2 separate regions of the Homo sapiens genome follow, and region 1 is linked to region 2. Evidence: fine-mapped expression QTL. Tissue or cell type: whole blood. Region 2 holds a variant in brackets; the other region holds the start of a gene. All regions are shown on one strand. Distances are from middle to middle.

Region 1 (8,094 bases), 71 kb before region 2:
GTTGGAAGATTTAAATTATTAAATTTGATAATCAATAAGTTTTATAACTAATAATTAAATTTAGTGTTAGTTTTAAATTTATTTTACTAAACTATATAAAATTGCCATATATAAGGTAAAAATGTTCCAATATCAATAATTTTATGTTTCAATCTAATATTTTCATCTTTACCATGAGTGACTCAGGAGAATAATGGAGAAGAGTTTGGATTCAGGAGTCAAACAGATAAGGCTTCAAATTATACAGCCAAATCATGTATTAGCTGTGTATTTGTGGATCATTTATTTAATCTTTATTAGGCCTTGATTTCTTCAACTGAAAATGAGTGATATTAATAATATCCACTGCATTAAATTATTGTGAATATTAAAAGAATCACTGCATACACTGTGTTATTATAGAGTGAATGCTGAAAAAATGTTAGTAGAAGTTATTATTAATTTTTTTTAGACAGGATCCCACTCTGCCACCCAGGCTGGAGTAAAGTGATGCCATCATAATTCATTACAGTCTTGACATCCTGGGCTCAAGTGATCCTCCCACCTCAGCCACCTGAGTAGCTGGGACTACAGGTGTGTTCCACCACTCCCAGCCAATTTTTTCGATTTTTAGTAGAGGAGGTCTTGCTATGTTGCCCAGGTTGGTTTTGAATTCCTGAGCTCAAGTGACCCTCCTGCTTTGGCCTCCCAAAGTGCTGGGATTATAGGTGTGAGCCACCGGACCCAGCAGAAGTTATTACTAGCATTGGATTTAATTAATATTTATATTATATTTCCCACCATTTTCTTTTTCCTCTTGAATTTCCTGATTAGTTTGCCTGGTTTACATGAACTGCTCTTCAATTTCAAGCCCATTGCATTTTCAAACATTATATAATTTGATACTATGAACATTATGAGTTTGATGGGTAGGAATTATTATTCCCCTTTTCCAAACAAGGAAATCAGGTTATGTGATTTTTTTTCAAAGATCACACAAACTAGTAAAAGGCAAAGCCAGGATTAGAACTCACTAATCTTTTTATCATGTTGGCTTTTATAAGGACCTTTTAAATGGATATTTCTGGGCAGCAAGTATTCTAACATCAATGGCACTGAATTACCATTATTATTTTAGAGAAAGTCTTCTCTCATTCATTATAAATTTCTGTAATAGCCAACAATTATTTAGCAACTAATATGTACCTCATATTATACAGTGTACGTATATACTAGTACCTCATACTATGTAGCATATGTACTTCTGCTATATACATAACAATTCATAAGATTGGTAACTCTCATTATCCCTGTTTTACAAATACAAAAACTGAAAGCTAGTGAGTAGTGAAGCCAATATTTGAAACAAAGCAGTTTGCCTCCAGGACCTATGCTCTTAAACACTGTGTTATACTACCTCTTAGCAAACAGTACTACAAGCTTTTAAAAAATATATATTTTAAAAAGTGTTCATTGTTGTACTTAACTTTTTTTTTTTTTGAGACAGGGTCTCACTCTGTCTCCCAGGTTGGAGGGCAGTGGCACAATCATGGCTCACTGCAGCCTCGGCCTCCCCAGGTTCAGGCCATCCTCAAGCCTCCCGAGTAGCTGAAACTAAAGGCACGCACCACCATGCCCCAGCTAATTTTTGCATTTTTTGTAGAGACAGAGTTTTGCCACTTTGCCCAGGCTGGTCTCCAATTCTTGGACTCAAGTGATCCGCCTGCCTTGGTCTCCCAAAGTACTGAAATTACAGGTGTGAGTCACCATGCCCGGCCAGTACTGCAAACTTTCACTGCCTTTCAAACTTCCATTGATTCTCAAGCAGTGCATCTCAACATGTTATATGTAAAAAAAAAAAAAAGACAAAACAAAAAAACTTTGCCCCCTCAAAATTTGATGTGCTATACTGAATAGAAATAGTTTCTGAGGAGGTTTCTACTCTCACAGGCAGAACTGGCTACATATTTAGTAGAGCCCAGTGCAAAAGAAATATATGGGGTCCCTTGTTAAGAAGTTATGAAACATTTTAATTAAGAATGTGACAGTAGAGCATTAACTCAACTGTGTGATCTTTTTTGAGTGTGAAGCACTGTGAGACTACACAGTAGCATACCATGAAACCCACCCTGCTCACAGGGTCATAATTCTGAATCCAGCCTTGTTCCCGTGCAGCTATCATTTTGCAGACCTGCATAAAGCTTTGTAGCAGAAATACTCGTGACCTTTTAGTAAGTCTTTCCCAGTAACACTCTAGTATCTCAACTGAGAGCATTCGGAGGAAACAGGAAGTAGGACTTGGGAGGGAAACAAGGCTACCAGGCTACAGTCTAGATGACGTGTTCTATGAAAAAGGAGAAGCATAGACCAATTTTTGTCTTAGCAGCCAGAGTGAGATGGTAGTCAGGAAGTGGGACGAAGAAAGAGGAAGCTCTCGGGAACTCCCACCACCCCACAAAGGGGGAATTACTCTTTTCTTCCATCAGAATGGTGGCAGAAACCTGTGAAATACATCCATTTGTCTTTGTTTCTTGGAAGGGGTTCATGTTAATTTATGTCTAAAATTAACAAGCCTGGCATTGGTTATTCAAATGCTTTTTGCCCTTTTAAAAATATAGACAAAAATAATGTTTTAACCTTTCTTCCTTCTAAAAGTAGAAAAGAATTGCATTACTGAAAAATACCTGTTATTAATTCTTAGACTTTGTTGTGCACAAGGGTATTGTCATTCAATTCTGTAGGCAGTCAAGAATCAGAGTCGGTGCTTTTAGAATCCAAGTACATAGGCTTAAGCTCTGGTCCCTCCCGTTATTGATTCTGCAATCTTGAGAAAGTTAATTGACCTCTCTGAACCTTAGCTTTTTAATCTGCAAAATGAGAAAAATCTTAAATAATAACAACCTCAGAGGATTACTATATGCATTTGATGCATAAAGGTACTTAGTGTAATACCTGCCTGCCACATCACAAGAACTCAACAAATTATAGATATTTTTATTTCATGTAAATGCACATGTTTGTATACATAAATATTCATACATGTATAAATATATTTTACACATGTATATAAAGTGTGTAATATAGACACATATGTATGTATATATGTATGTGTATATATACATACATATATTTTGAGTTCCTGAGTTTTTAAGCTGTCAGATATTGGTGAGGAGAAATGCTTAGTTAGGAGGATGCCTGTAACAGAGCTTCTTTTTGGGCTTCTGCCTGTCATTGCTAACTCAATATTCAACTTACATAGCATTTAAATTGAATTACTGCTGCCTGCACAATTATGGGCTTTCTTAGTATAATCCCTATGCTTCACATCAAGAAGACTGAGTGTTTACTTGAATCTAAACCTAATATAATGCTTGGAAAAAGCCAGGTGTGCTTCCTGTCTGAAATGGTGGTAATGTACTTCCAGATGTTTTTCAGAGCATTGATTGGGATATATAAATTGCCATCTATTAAGGTTATTTTACTTAGCATCTCTCTCCCTAATCCCTAGCTATCTGATGTATCTTTTATGTGTTTCTTGATTTTAAGCACAGAAAATAAAATGGAAAATAACTTGAAGCTCTAGTATCTTTTTGCTAGTACACCAACATAGCATATATCCAGGTTTCCCTTTAAAATTTCAGTTTTATAGTTCCCTCAAAGTTATTGAAAACAGAGGTTTCGTTATTATATTCTCAATACAGAATTCACTAAGAAAATTAATTTTAAAAAAGAAGAAAAGCAGAGGCAACTGTATTCCCAATATAAGCAGTATTTACCACTTCTTATTGTGTAAATATGCAAATAAAATGAAAATAAGGAATGCTTCTCTGTTGCTTTGGTAGTGGATAAAATAAGTTCAACAGTGTTTTTCTAAAAATCTATTTGGTAAATGTGTTTCCTGTGAAATGAGTTACTTGTTTTTTGTCATTCAATTGCAAAACTGCATGTGAAAATAAAATAAATGTGAATGTGAAAATAAAAGCCTCACAAAAATTCCTCTGCATGAACATCTCTGACTGGGAGGTTTGACTGAATAAATTATTCCTGGGCTTTTGAATTATTAATCTTGGCTGCAGGATATGCAAATAGGATATGCAAATAGGACACTGTAATAACCATGTCCAGTGGCACAACACTGGGTCAGAAGCTATATCCAGCTGCTGGCAGAGTTCCTGTCAAGGGATCAAGTCTTCCAACAGAATGGTAAGCTACATGGCAAATTGTGCCTCTCAGTGTATAAAGTAAGGCCAGATTTCCTTCTAAAGGTGACCTGTGAGCAATTAAGGTTTTCAGTATTAAGTGTTTAAATTAATTCTTTATAAATAGATGTAAAACAGCAAAATAATTGAAAAAAAAAAGTCATTTTTATCTCTACGTTTATTTTTCAACAAATTAACTGTCTTCTTTTAGTTGTCAAATACTAATTTTATTTTATGTAAAAGGATTTATTATATTTGCTAACATCTCAACAACTTATATTTCAACAAAATAGTAATTGGATTTACCTAAATAAATATAACTACTTATGGGGAAAAATTAAAGTTCCTAAATGATTTGAAACAATCATGTATTTGATACATACACACACACACACACACACACACACACACACATATACATACATATATATATATATATATATATTTTTTTTTTTTTTTTTTTTTTTTAAGACAGAGTTTCACTCTTGTCACCCAGGCTAGAGTGTCTGAGTGCCAGAGTGACACATTTACAGCATGTGTTGGCTCACTGCAACCTCCGCCTCTGGGGTTCAAGCAATTCTCCTGCCTCAGCCTGCAGAGTAGCTAGGATTACAAGCGCCCACCACCACGCCCGGCTATTTTTTTTGGATTTTTTAGTAGAGATGGAGTTTCACCATGTTGGTCAGGTTGGTCTCAAACTCCTGACCTCAGGTGATCCACTCATCTCGGCCTCTCCAAGTGTTGGGATTCCAGGCATGAGCCACTGTGCTGGGGCATAATATTTTTATGTTTAGAAAATAATGTATTTGGGGGAATTTTCAGGCATCCTAAAAATTAAATTTAACATTTATGTGTGTAAAAATGATATTACCCAATAATTAATTTACTTAGGAAAAATGAAAAATTGCAGAAACCATTTCTATTCTACCTTCCATAACTTTTCAAAATGTGTGTGGTATTCTTAAAGAAGTTAATACACAATTTGTGCCATACTATTACTTTTTAATACCTTAATTTCTGGTGTAATGTATGGAATACATAAAAATAAAGTTACAAATGTTAAATTATTATATCTTTTCAGTGTGAATATATATTTTTGCTCAAATTATTTAGTAATCAAAAAAGTAATTTGTTAAAAAAAATTCTCATGTTACCATGTAAATTTGCCTTAAGGTAGCACTTAAAAGTAAACATTTTACAAATGTTATTTGTTTAATTGTGATGACTATAAAAACAAACAATTAAAAAGCTAAGAAACTATCACATATATATTTTAAAGTAAATTTCAAAAATGCAGATTTTCAAAAGGCTGAATATATTTAAAGTAAAAAACATTTTCAAGTTAAGTATTATTGGTCTGCTTATGTGAGTAAATTAGATATTGCTTCTAGTTCAATAATTCTAACAGTTTTAGATATATTTTTGGACTGGAAACTAAAGATTTCACTTTAATTTCTGCTCTTAAAAAATACCTATTCAAAATAATTCATCCAAATCAGTTACAATTTATTTATCACTATTTCCATTTCCTAAAAATTAAGAATATAGCCACTAGATAGCAGAAGAGAGAATATGAATTTTTCATGAGGGAATTTTCTCTTTAATTGGGAGTTTTGCTTAAAGGAGCAACTTACTTCATATGTTTATAGAATTGCGATGCCACACTAAAAACATACCCAACTATAAACATATCCAATTTGAAATATAGTATCTTCAAAATTTTGTATCCTAGTGAAGTTAAATTGGTCTGCAAATATTGCACAGCTCATATTTATAAAATCATAATCTATTAGAATTATGAACTTAGAAAAAATGAAACAAATGTATCAAAAAATTATAAAACATCATAAAAAAATCTCATTTTTATGAATAAAAATTCAGGTAAATATTAAAATGTAAAAGGGTACCCAAATATTAGGAGTGGTCTGTTTACAGACCATTTTTATTTCTTATTTTTGCCTATTTGATTTTATGAGTGTTACACCTTAACAATAATTTTACACATACATTTTTAAAAAGTTGTTTCAAAAAAATGAAGAAACAACTGTATGAGAAGAAAGACAAATATGATAATTTAGTCATTCATTTCTCTTATTTCAGCTCTACTCCTTCCCTACTACTCCTTCAATCCCCGACCTTCTGGGCTACTATAAAGCAGAATGCTCCTTGACTTTCATGTGACCCGTCACCTGCCTGAGTGATAGTTGCAGGAAATCAGGCTCTAGTTGCACAAGTCTTTGTGGCTATATTTTCCTTCCATTGCAGTCAAATCTTTCTGCTGTGCACAATACATAAGCTATTAACATTACCAGTGGTGACTAGGCAGAAAGATAAACGTTATGACCAGAAAAAAAGGAAATGCAAAAGTGAAACAAATTTCTTGTGTCAAGGAAACTTTCTATACCTTAATTTTCATTTGAATTTGTGCACCAGCTTTTTGAGTACCCACAAAATAACAAGAGCTCAGAAATAAGGCCTGAGAAGGTCCAACATTTAAAACTTGGGCAAAGAAGGATTAAGCCACAAAAGAGCATGAAAATGGAGAAAGGAGGAAAACAAGGAGATTGTTGTGTCATAGAAGATAGGAAGAGAGTGCTTCCAGAAAGTGTGGACTTAAAAGCTACTGAGAATAAATAATAATAGTAAAAACTGACCATTGAGCTAAAAAAAATAAAGTTTGTTAATATGTTAAAGCCTATTGACATTTTTGCTATATTTCTAGAAATTTAAAGTTTTTAATATTATCAAATAGATGCCAATTTTGAGAGAAAAAATGATAGGAAATTTAGATAAAAGGAGAAAGGAAATAATAAAAACTACCTGAAATCTCATCATTAGAGATAAAGCTATTAACATTTTGATGCACGTCTTTCTAGACTTCTTATGCTTATTAATTTCAGGTGTCATTTCTTAATTAAATGCTTCAGTTTTAAAATTTATCCTGGTAGATATTTAATTTTGCCTTATACAAATGTGTTTCTAAACTACAGCTACTACTACTACAATTACTAATTTTTAATACTTATCATATTATATTATATATAGTGTTGACTTTCACAGTGAAATAAGCAATGAGCTTAATCTGATGGTCTTGCTGCTTATCTGGCCTTGGAGAAAATATTTATAAAAATGCTTTGTAAATAGTCAGGTGTTCATATTCATCTCTTCACTCAACAAAGATTTATAGATCACCTACTATCTGCTGGTCACTGTGCCAGATGTGGACAATAAAAAATGAGTAAGACAAAGTTATACAAAATTCTAAGAAGTTTAGTATACAATGAAAGCATAAATGGGAGGACCTACTTTAGACTGAGGGTCAGACAGCCTACCTTGGGAAACCTACACTTGAACAGAGGCCTGAGAGAAGTATAGATATATGACAAATATGTGATGGGCCAGGAATCACAGGACAAAAACAGCAGTGAAAAGAGATTCAGATAGAGGGACTGCATGTTAAGAAGGCTCTCTGTGCATTCAAAGAGCAGGAAGAAAGGAAGATGAATTAGGAGGAGAGTAATGCCAAGCAAAATTGAAGTGGGTGCAGGGGCCAGATCATGCAGACCTTGATGTCCCCATTAAGGATTTTAGACTATATTCCTTGGATAGTGGAAAGTTAATTAAGGGTTTTGATCAAGGAAAGCTATATGATCTGATTTTGAGTTGTAGTTTTTCAAGACTGTTTAGCTATAATGGTAAAGATGAACTGATGAGGGCCAGAGAGGATGTGAGGAGACAATAGCAGAATATGACATAGAGCAAAATAGAGATAAGAGTAGCCTGGACGAGAATGATAATGAAAGCTATAGAGCAGTAATGATAGATTTGAGAAATACCCAGACATTACAGTAAACAGACTTGGTAGTTTATTCATTACTGGTGTTGAGTTTTAGATGACTTTGAGGATATTGCTTAG
Region 2 (8,113 bases):
AATTCAGTAGCCCTAGCCAGTGTCAAAGTTCATTTTATACCATTTTATGAAAAATAGTAATTAATTTAAATCTCCAGATAAATGTGCCTATTTATATGTAGACATGACCTAGCAAGGAAAACTATATAACACAAGATGTATGATAGCAAGGAAGCAAGTCTTCTAAAAACTGGGTCTGATTCTGTAATCCACACAGAATCTTGTATGAATTAACTATCCAGGAAGGAAAACTAAGAGCTACATTCTAGTTTTCAAAGATAGAAAAAAGTCTTAGGAATCATGGGGAAGAAGAAACTGCTGAGATGTGAAATACAGTGGGTTAAAGAGTATTCTGTAAAAGACAATGTGGTAGAAGATAAATAAGCAGATTTATAATTTGTTCCTATGAACCTTCTCTACTTGCAACTTGCTAAAAGTCATGTTTTAATTAACTGGACAGGGATCCCTTTCTTCTCAGCATAGCTCCAAATATGTCCTTGGCATATTTAAAACTGCATAAAATAAGCAATAATGCCCTGACAATTCTGGCTTCAAAAACTGGCCATTTTATCCCTGAGTAGTTTTCCTGAAATGAAGGGCCAGCACTCTCAAGGCAGGCTTTTGACTCCTGTACCAAACTATAATTCACTTCTAACCTATAAACCCAGATAGAGAGTAGTGGAATGAAGGAGAGCTTTCTAATATCATATAAATCTATAAAATAGAGAGTCTTTGGTAGGAGCAAATACACATCATAAAATTATGTCCTCTACCTTTAGCAGCTGGGAAACATTACACACTACCACAATTCAATGGTGCCCTTTTAATTGCACATGCTTAAACAAAATACCGCATTATAATTACATTTGGCATTTCAAAGAGTCAAGAGTTCAAAACTGGAATGTGTTAGAATGAGAAAAATTATAACCAAATATCCCACATCAGGATGCAGCTTTTTGGACAAGCACAGTAATTCAGTTTCGGTATTTCATAAAAAGTGGTTTATTTCACTTTGCAATTTTCCATTTATTAGAAAATATCATTCATACAAAACAATATATAAATGCATATATTGACTTAAATAATTTTAGTAAATGATGCACCTATGTGTCCACTGCTGAGGTTAAGAAATAGAGACTGGCCAGTTTTTTCCAAATCCTCTATACATCTTCCCAATTATATCACCTTCCCATCCTACAAACAGAGGTTTTCGTCATTTTGACTTTTATAATAATCATCCCACGTTCTTTCGGCTTTAAATGATTTTACCACTTATGGATATATTTCTCCTATTTTTGAACCTTATGAATATGAATTCCTACACTATAATGTCTATGTCTTACTTATTTCATTCAATATGAGGTTTGGGTAGATTCACTGGGCAAAGCTCACATGTAACTGTCTCTCATTCAGTTTCCCTGCTGAACAGTGTTCCACCTTAAAACCAGTCTACAATGTATTTTCCATTCTACCATTGTCGGACATTTTGGTTATTTCCTGTAATATGTTATTAATTTTTATACATTTATTCCAGGAGTGAAATCCTTAGATCATATATTATGAGCATATTCAAACTTCCTATGAAATGTTGATCTATTTTTTAAATGTTTGGGCCAATTTATACATCATACCACCAATATTCATAAGTTCCTGTTGCTCCACATATATGCCAACATGACAGTGTCAGATTTAGTTTTTCACCTAAAGATTGGGTAAGACATGGTAACTCTTGTGGTTCTAACTTGCTTTTTTATTGCTAGTGAAGTTAGGCATCTTCTCATATTCCATAGTTTGAATGTAAGTGAGTAGAGTACAATGAGATATTTTGAGAGAGAGAAAGAGACCACATTCACCTAACTTGTATTACAGCATAACATTTAATTATTCTATTTTATTATTAGTTATTGTTGTGAATATATTACCCTGCCTACTTTGTAAATTAAACTTTATCATAGGTATGTATTTATGGGAGGGAAACATAGTGTGTACACACACACACACACACACACACACACACGGTTTAGTAGCATCCTCAGTTTCAGTCGTCCACTAGGGATCTTGGAACATATCCCCTGAGGATAAGGGGGAGACCACTGTATTGAGAATTTTGTGTTTCTTTTGAATTGTTAAACATGTTAGTCTTTGTCTTGCTTTTTTGTTCTGGATACTTCTTTTTTAGGAACTTTTAAGTATAAAATCAGCTTCTTTAATAGACAGAGGACTAGTTGAGTTGCCTATTTATCTTGAAATTCTCTGTTATTATTCTTTTGATATCTTTGGATTTTGTAACGAAATCCTCTCTCTCTTTCCTAGTATTGGTAATTTACATCCTCTATTTTTTTCTTTGTTAATCATTGTAGATATTTATTAAGTTTATTGGTCTTGCTTTTTTTTTTTTTAAAGCACAATTTAAAAAATTTGTTCATTGGCCAGGCGCGGTGGCTCACGCCTGTAATCCCAGCACTTTGGGAGGCGGAGGTGGACAGATCACGAGGTCAGGAGATCGAGACCATCCTGGCTAACACGGTGAAACCCCGTCTCTACTAAAAATACAAAAAATTAGCCAGGCGTGGTGGCGCCGCCTGTAGTCCCAGCTACTCAGGAAGCTGAGGCAGGAGAATGGCGTGAACCCTGGAGGCGGAGCTTGCAGTGAGTTGAGGCCTGGCCACTGCTCTCCAGCCTGGGGGACAGAGAGAGACTCCGTCTCAAAAAAAAAAAAAAAAAAAAAAGAAAAGAAAAGAAAAAGAAAAATTTGTTTATTGTTTTCTGTTTTCAATTTTAACAATTTCTGTTCTTATATGTATTACAAGATGCATTGCTTAACGACAGGGATATGCTCTGAGAAATGCATTGTTAGGCAATTTTGTTGTACAAACATCAGAGTGTATTTACACAAACCTAGATGGTATGACCTCCTGCACATCTGATATAGCACTAGGCTATATGGTATGCCTATTGCTGCTAGGCTACAAACCTATACAGTATGTTGCTCTACTGAATACTGCAGGCAACCACAACAGAATGGCACTTGTGTATCTATGTTTAGATACACAGATATAGCAAAGTTCATGCAATGCACTGGGACCTACAATGTCAACTAGGTGATAGGAATTTTCCTGCTCCATTATAATCTTTTGGGACTACTGTCGTACATGCAGTCCATCATTGACCAAAATACTGTTGTGACACATAACTGTATTTTCTTCTGCTTCTTATTTTACTATTGTTTTTATAGTTTCTTATACCGGAAATTGAGATTACAGAGACTTTCCTCCTTTTATAATGTATGTATTTACTGTTACACATCTTCCCTTTGTGCATTGCTTTAACTAAATTTGACTTAATTTGTTATGTTGCATTTTCATTCAAAATGTGTTCTAATTTCTCTTGAAACATTTTCTTTGACTCATATTATTTTGAATCATGAGCTTTAATTTTCAAATATTTGAAGGTTTTGTTTTTTTCTTTTGTTATTTATTTCTAGTATAATT[C/T]CATTATGGTCAGAGAACATACTTTGTGTGATTTCAATTATGTTTGTTAATGTGTGACTATGAGCCAGAATATCATCTATCTTGATGAATATTCCATGTGTCCCTCAAAATAATGTGTATTTTGCTATCTTTGGATAGAATTCTATAAAAATCAAGTAGATAAAGTTGGTTGATGGCATTGTTTTGTTCTTCTATATCCTTGCTAACTCTGTTAACTAGTCCTTTCTGTTACTAAGAAAGAAATGTTGACTGTCCAACTATATTTGCTGATATGTCTATTTTTTCTTTCAATGCTGTAGGTTTTTGCTTTGTGTGTTTTGAAGATCTGTGGCTTAGCTCATATAAATTGATAATTCTTATGTCTTCTTGGTAAATTAAGCCTTTTTATTATGTAATGTCCATCTTTATTCCTGGTAATCTTTGCTCTGAGTCTGCTTTGTGATATTAACATAGTCATTCCAGTTTTTGTTTGATTAGTGTTTGTGTAGTGATATGGTTTGGCTGTGTCCCCACCCAAATCTCATCTTGAATTCCCACATGTTGTAGGAGGGACCCAGTAGGAAGTAATTGAATCATGGGGCAGGTCTTTCCCGTGCTGTTCTAATGATGGTGAATAAGTCTCACAAGATCTGATGGTTTTATAAGGGTAAGTTTCTTCGAACAAGCTCTCTCTTTGCCTGCTGCTATCCACATAAGATGTGACTTGCTCCTCCTTGCCTTCTGCCATGATTGTGAGGCCTCCCCACCCATGTGGGACTGTAAGTCTATTAGACCTCTTTCTTTTGTAAATTGCCTAGTCTTGGGCTCATCTTTATTAACAGTGTGAAAAGGACTAATATATGTGGTATATTATTTTTCATCATTTTACTTTTAACCTATCTGTGTAACTATATTTTAAGTGGCTCTCTTTGCAGCATATAAGTAATTTTTAAAATCACTCCAACCATCTCTGTCTTTTAATTGGTGTGTCCAGACCATTTATGTTTAAATTAATTATTGATGGGTTTAGATTTAGGACTATCATTTTATTTTCTGGTTTTGTACTTATTCCCCTTATTTTATATTACTCTGTTTCCTATTTTAAGTCTTCTTTTGGGTAAAAGAATTCAAGATAAGAAGACTAACTTATTACATTTGCTTTGGTCTGAATATTTGTTTCCCCTCAAAGTTCACATGTTAAAATCCTAACCCCCAAGGTGATGGTTTTAAGAGGTAGGATCTTTGGGATTTGATTAGATCACAAAGGTAGAGCCCTTATGAATGAGATTAGTGTACTCTTATTTTAAAAAAAGGCTTAAGGGAGGTTGTTTGCCACTTCCATCATGTGAGGATACACTAAGAAGGTGCCATCTATGAGCCAGGAAACAAGCTCTTAGCAGACACTAAATCTGCTACCCCTTGATCTTGGACTTCCCAGTCTTGAGAACTCTGAGAGATAAATTTCTGTTGTTTATAACCTACCCTGGTTTATCGTATTTCTTTAGAGAAGCCCAAATGAACTATGACAACTTTTCATTGAAATGTTGCTCTTTCTTTTCTTCTCCCTTAATTCCTGGAGTTTCAAGTGTTTTGTTTCAGAAACAATTTCCCTTCTATCTAAAAACCTTCCTTTAGAAATTCTTTTAAAGCATGACTGATAGATACAAGTTCTTTCAGTTTTCTTTCATCTGAGGACATTTTTAATTTTATATCTAAATGAAATATCCTATCTAAATGAAATATCCTTCAGTAGTGAGAATTTCACTACTGAAGGATATTTCATTTAGATATAAAATTCTGGATTAAACATAATAAAACATTTTCTTAATTAGGAATTGACAGTTTTTTCTTTCAGCATTTCTTCTTGTCTGCCATGATTTCTGATGAGAAGTATTGAAGTTTCTAAATCATTCTTCCCCTATAGTTAATGTGTCACTTTTCTTTGGCTGCTTTAAGCACTTTTTCTTCGTCTTCGGTTTTCAGCAGTTTTATTATGATATGTCTGTGCATAGATTTCTTTGAGTTTATCCTATTTGGGATTTGCTTCACTTCTTTTATACATTTTCTAAAAAATAAAGTTTGGAAGATTTCTGTCATTATTTTTTATTTTTTTCATCATTACCCTATCTTTCTGAAACTCCAGTGGCATGGTTAGATCTTCAGGTATCATCCTGTTGGTCCTTGAGATTTTGTTCTTTTGTAAGTTGTTTTCTTTGTCTTGTTTCGGTTAAATGAGTTTTTTCTCCTGATCCGTCTTCAAGTTCACTGACTCTGTGCTCCGTTATCTCCATCCTGCTGTTGAACTCAGTGAGATTTTTATTGGAGGATAGAAGAAGGTGTTTATTGTATTTTCCCATCCTAAAATTTCAGTTTGGTTCTTTATATCTTTGATTTCTTTGCTAAAGCTTTTTGTTTAACCTTTGTTGCAAGAGTGTTCACAATTGCTTCTGGAAACATTTGTATAATAGCTACTTTAAAGTCTTTGTCAGCTAATTCCAACATCTATTGTCATCTCAGCTTTGCTGTCTGTTGATTGTCTTTTCTCATGTGAATTGAAATGTTTGTGCTTCTTTCTATGCTGAGTCATTTTTGACATTTTGTGAATTACTTCAAGATTCTTTGGAGTCTTGTTTAAATTCTACGCAGATTGTTAATATTTTGTTTCAGTAGGTTTGGGCCACAAGTTTTTGTTTGTTTGTTTCTTTTTTTGAGATGGAGTTTCACTCTTGTTGCCCAGGCTAGAGTGCAGTGGCATGATCTCGGTTCACTGCAACCTCTGCCTCCTGGGTTCAAGTGATTCTCCTGCCTCAGCCTCCCAAGTAGCTGGGATTACAGGTGTACACCACCGTGCCAGGCTCATTTTGTATTTTTAGCAGAGACAGGGTTTCACCATGTTTGTGAGGCTAGTCTTGAAGTCCTGACCTCAAGTGATCCACCCTCCTCAGCCTCCCACAAGTTCTAACCCACCCCCTATAGACTGTGGTTCCAGTGTTAGTTCAGTGTTCCAAACCTTTGTTGTGCTGTTTGCTCTCTCCTGGGTATGCACTCCACAGTGTTCAGTCTGGGACCTAGACTATCTGTTAGTTCAGTGCTCATAGATCTTTGATGTGCTGTTTGGGGTCAGATCTATGCATATGCAGGTTACATGAAAGTCCTATCATTCCTAAAGGACTTTCTTGGGTCACTTTTCTGAGCTCCTTTCTCTCCACAGTCTCCCCAGTACTTTGGCTTCCTGTGGCTTCATTTTTTGGTGGGCTGTCTCATGAAATTACTCTTGTCAAACTCTGTAATGCATTTCTATGATGGAGCACACATTCTCGCTCTACTGGAGCAAGGACTGAAAGATATAAAAAGCAATGGCATTTGCCCCATCCTTTTGAAAATGCAGCTACACCCGATGGCATCAAAGGTGCTCCTCCCTGAGAGCTATGGTTTTTGAGGTTTTCCGTAGCTTCTATCTCCATGGTTTTCCACGACTGGGATTAAGGTAGATTCTTCCTGAGAGGATTTCTCTTCATTTCTGGAAGTTATCTGAGTGCATTAACAATTTAAGATCACTTAAAGTTAAATACTTGAATTTGTTCATATCACATAAGTAATATGAATTCTAACTTCAAATTGATATAAGATTAGACTTGTAGTTATAATACTGTAGGGTGTTAAAGAAAAACTTATTCTGACACTTGTTAAAACTATAAGGAAGACTTTATCAGAGCTATTGTAATCGATGTCCTGAATATTGTAATAGGTGGTCAAGATTGGGTTCAACTCTGAATACAGCAAAAGCAACAAGGTGTCTATAGCCTATGAGAAGAGTGAGGGGGTCATGAATGGAGAATTGCTAAGAGGAGACATCAAAGGTAGGGAATTCTGGCTAAACAGTCTTAACAGGGTTCTTACTGATAACAGGTCAGGGTGACCAGGTATGAAGAGTGGAGGATTCTCTCTAAATTGACTTGGCAGGATTTAAAAACTGGACTCATGGAACAGGGAAAAAAGGAATGAAGAATTCTTGCTAAAACTGGATTCAAAGAACAAGAATCAAAGACAGGGTCCTAGGATGAGGCCTGGTTCAAAAGAGGATTCACAGGAGCTGCTAAAGTTTGGTCAAAAAGAGGGTTTAGGGACTCGTTTTTAAGTCTTTCTTCCCTTTCAGTGCCTAGATTCAAGATAATCAATATATTTTGAAACTGAGGGAAGAAGGGTTTGTTAGTTACATCTCCTTTCAGATTTCTCAGCTTGCTGAAATAGAAGCTTTGTTTCCAGTCTCCAATGCCCTGAAGGCCATAAAAAGGAAAGTTCAATTTTTTTGTTATTTAAAAGCCACCTGCATTTATTAGCTTTCAAAGTTTCAGCCTTCAAATGGATTTTCGCTTGGGTATTTTTTACTTCTGCAAGTTCAACTCCACATTTAGGATTTTAAATTTTAATTTATCTGGCATTTGAGTTGTTATCATTGAAAGAGTCTATCTGAGAAACTAACTCACCACACAGTTGGAAACAGAAGTTTCTATGTATGTTTCAATAGTGAATTCTTTTTATATTTCCAGAATAATTGCTTAGTTGGTAATATTTGGGTTCTAATTTTTCTTTCTTCTAAATAGTAAAAAACGTTTTGACTTTTTATCACAAAGGACAAACATAAATTAATTTTGTTTGTCCTA

Evidence for each region. PIP is the estimated chance that this variant, and not a neighbour inherited with it, causes the effect.
Region 1: SUCNR1 starts here. The variant in region 2 is fine-mapped to the expression of SUCNR1 in whole blood (TOPMed, PIP above 0.99).

What each region holds. Positions count from the first base shown.
Region 1 is chr3:151,869,525-151,877,618 of GRCh38, forward strand. It overlaps SUCNR1 (succinate receptor 1), which reads left to right and starts at 4,119. Exons shown (of 3, transcript NM_033050.6): 1 at 4,119-4,182. The region is part of intron 1 of AADACL2-AS1 (AADACL2 antisense RNA 1); the gene reads right to left.
Region 2 is chr3:151,940,815-151,948,927 of GRCh38, forward strand. The region is part of intron 1 of LOC107986047 (a long non-coding RNA gene); the gene reads right to left. Among named protein-coding and RNA genes, the nearest start is that of AADACL2-AS1, 17 kb to the left of the region's middle. The variant C/T (reference allele first, on the strand shown) is at 3,471.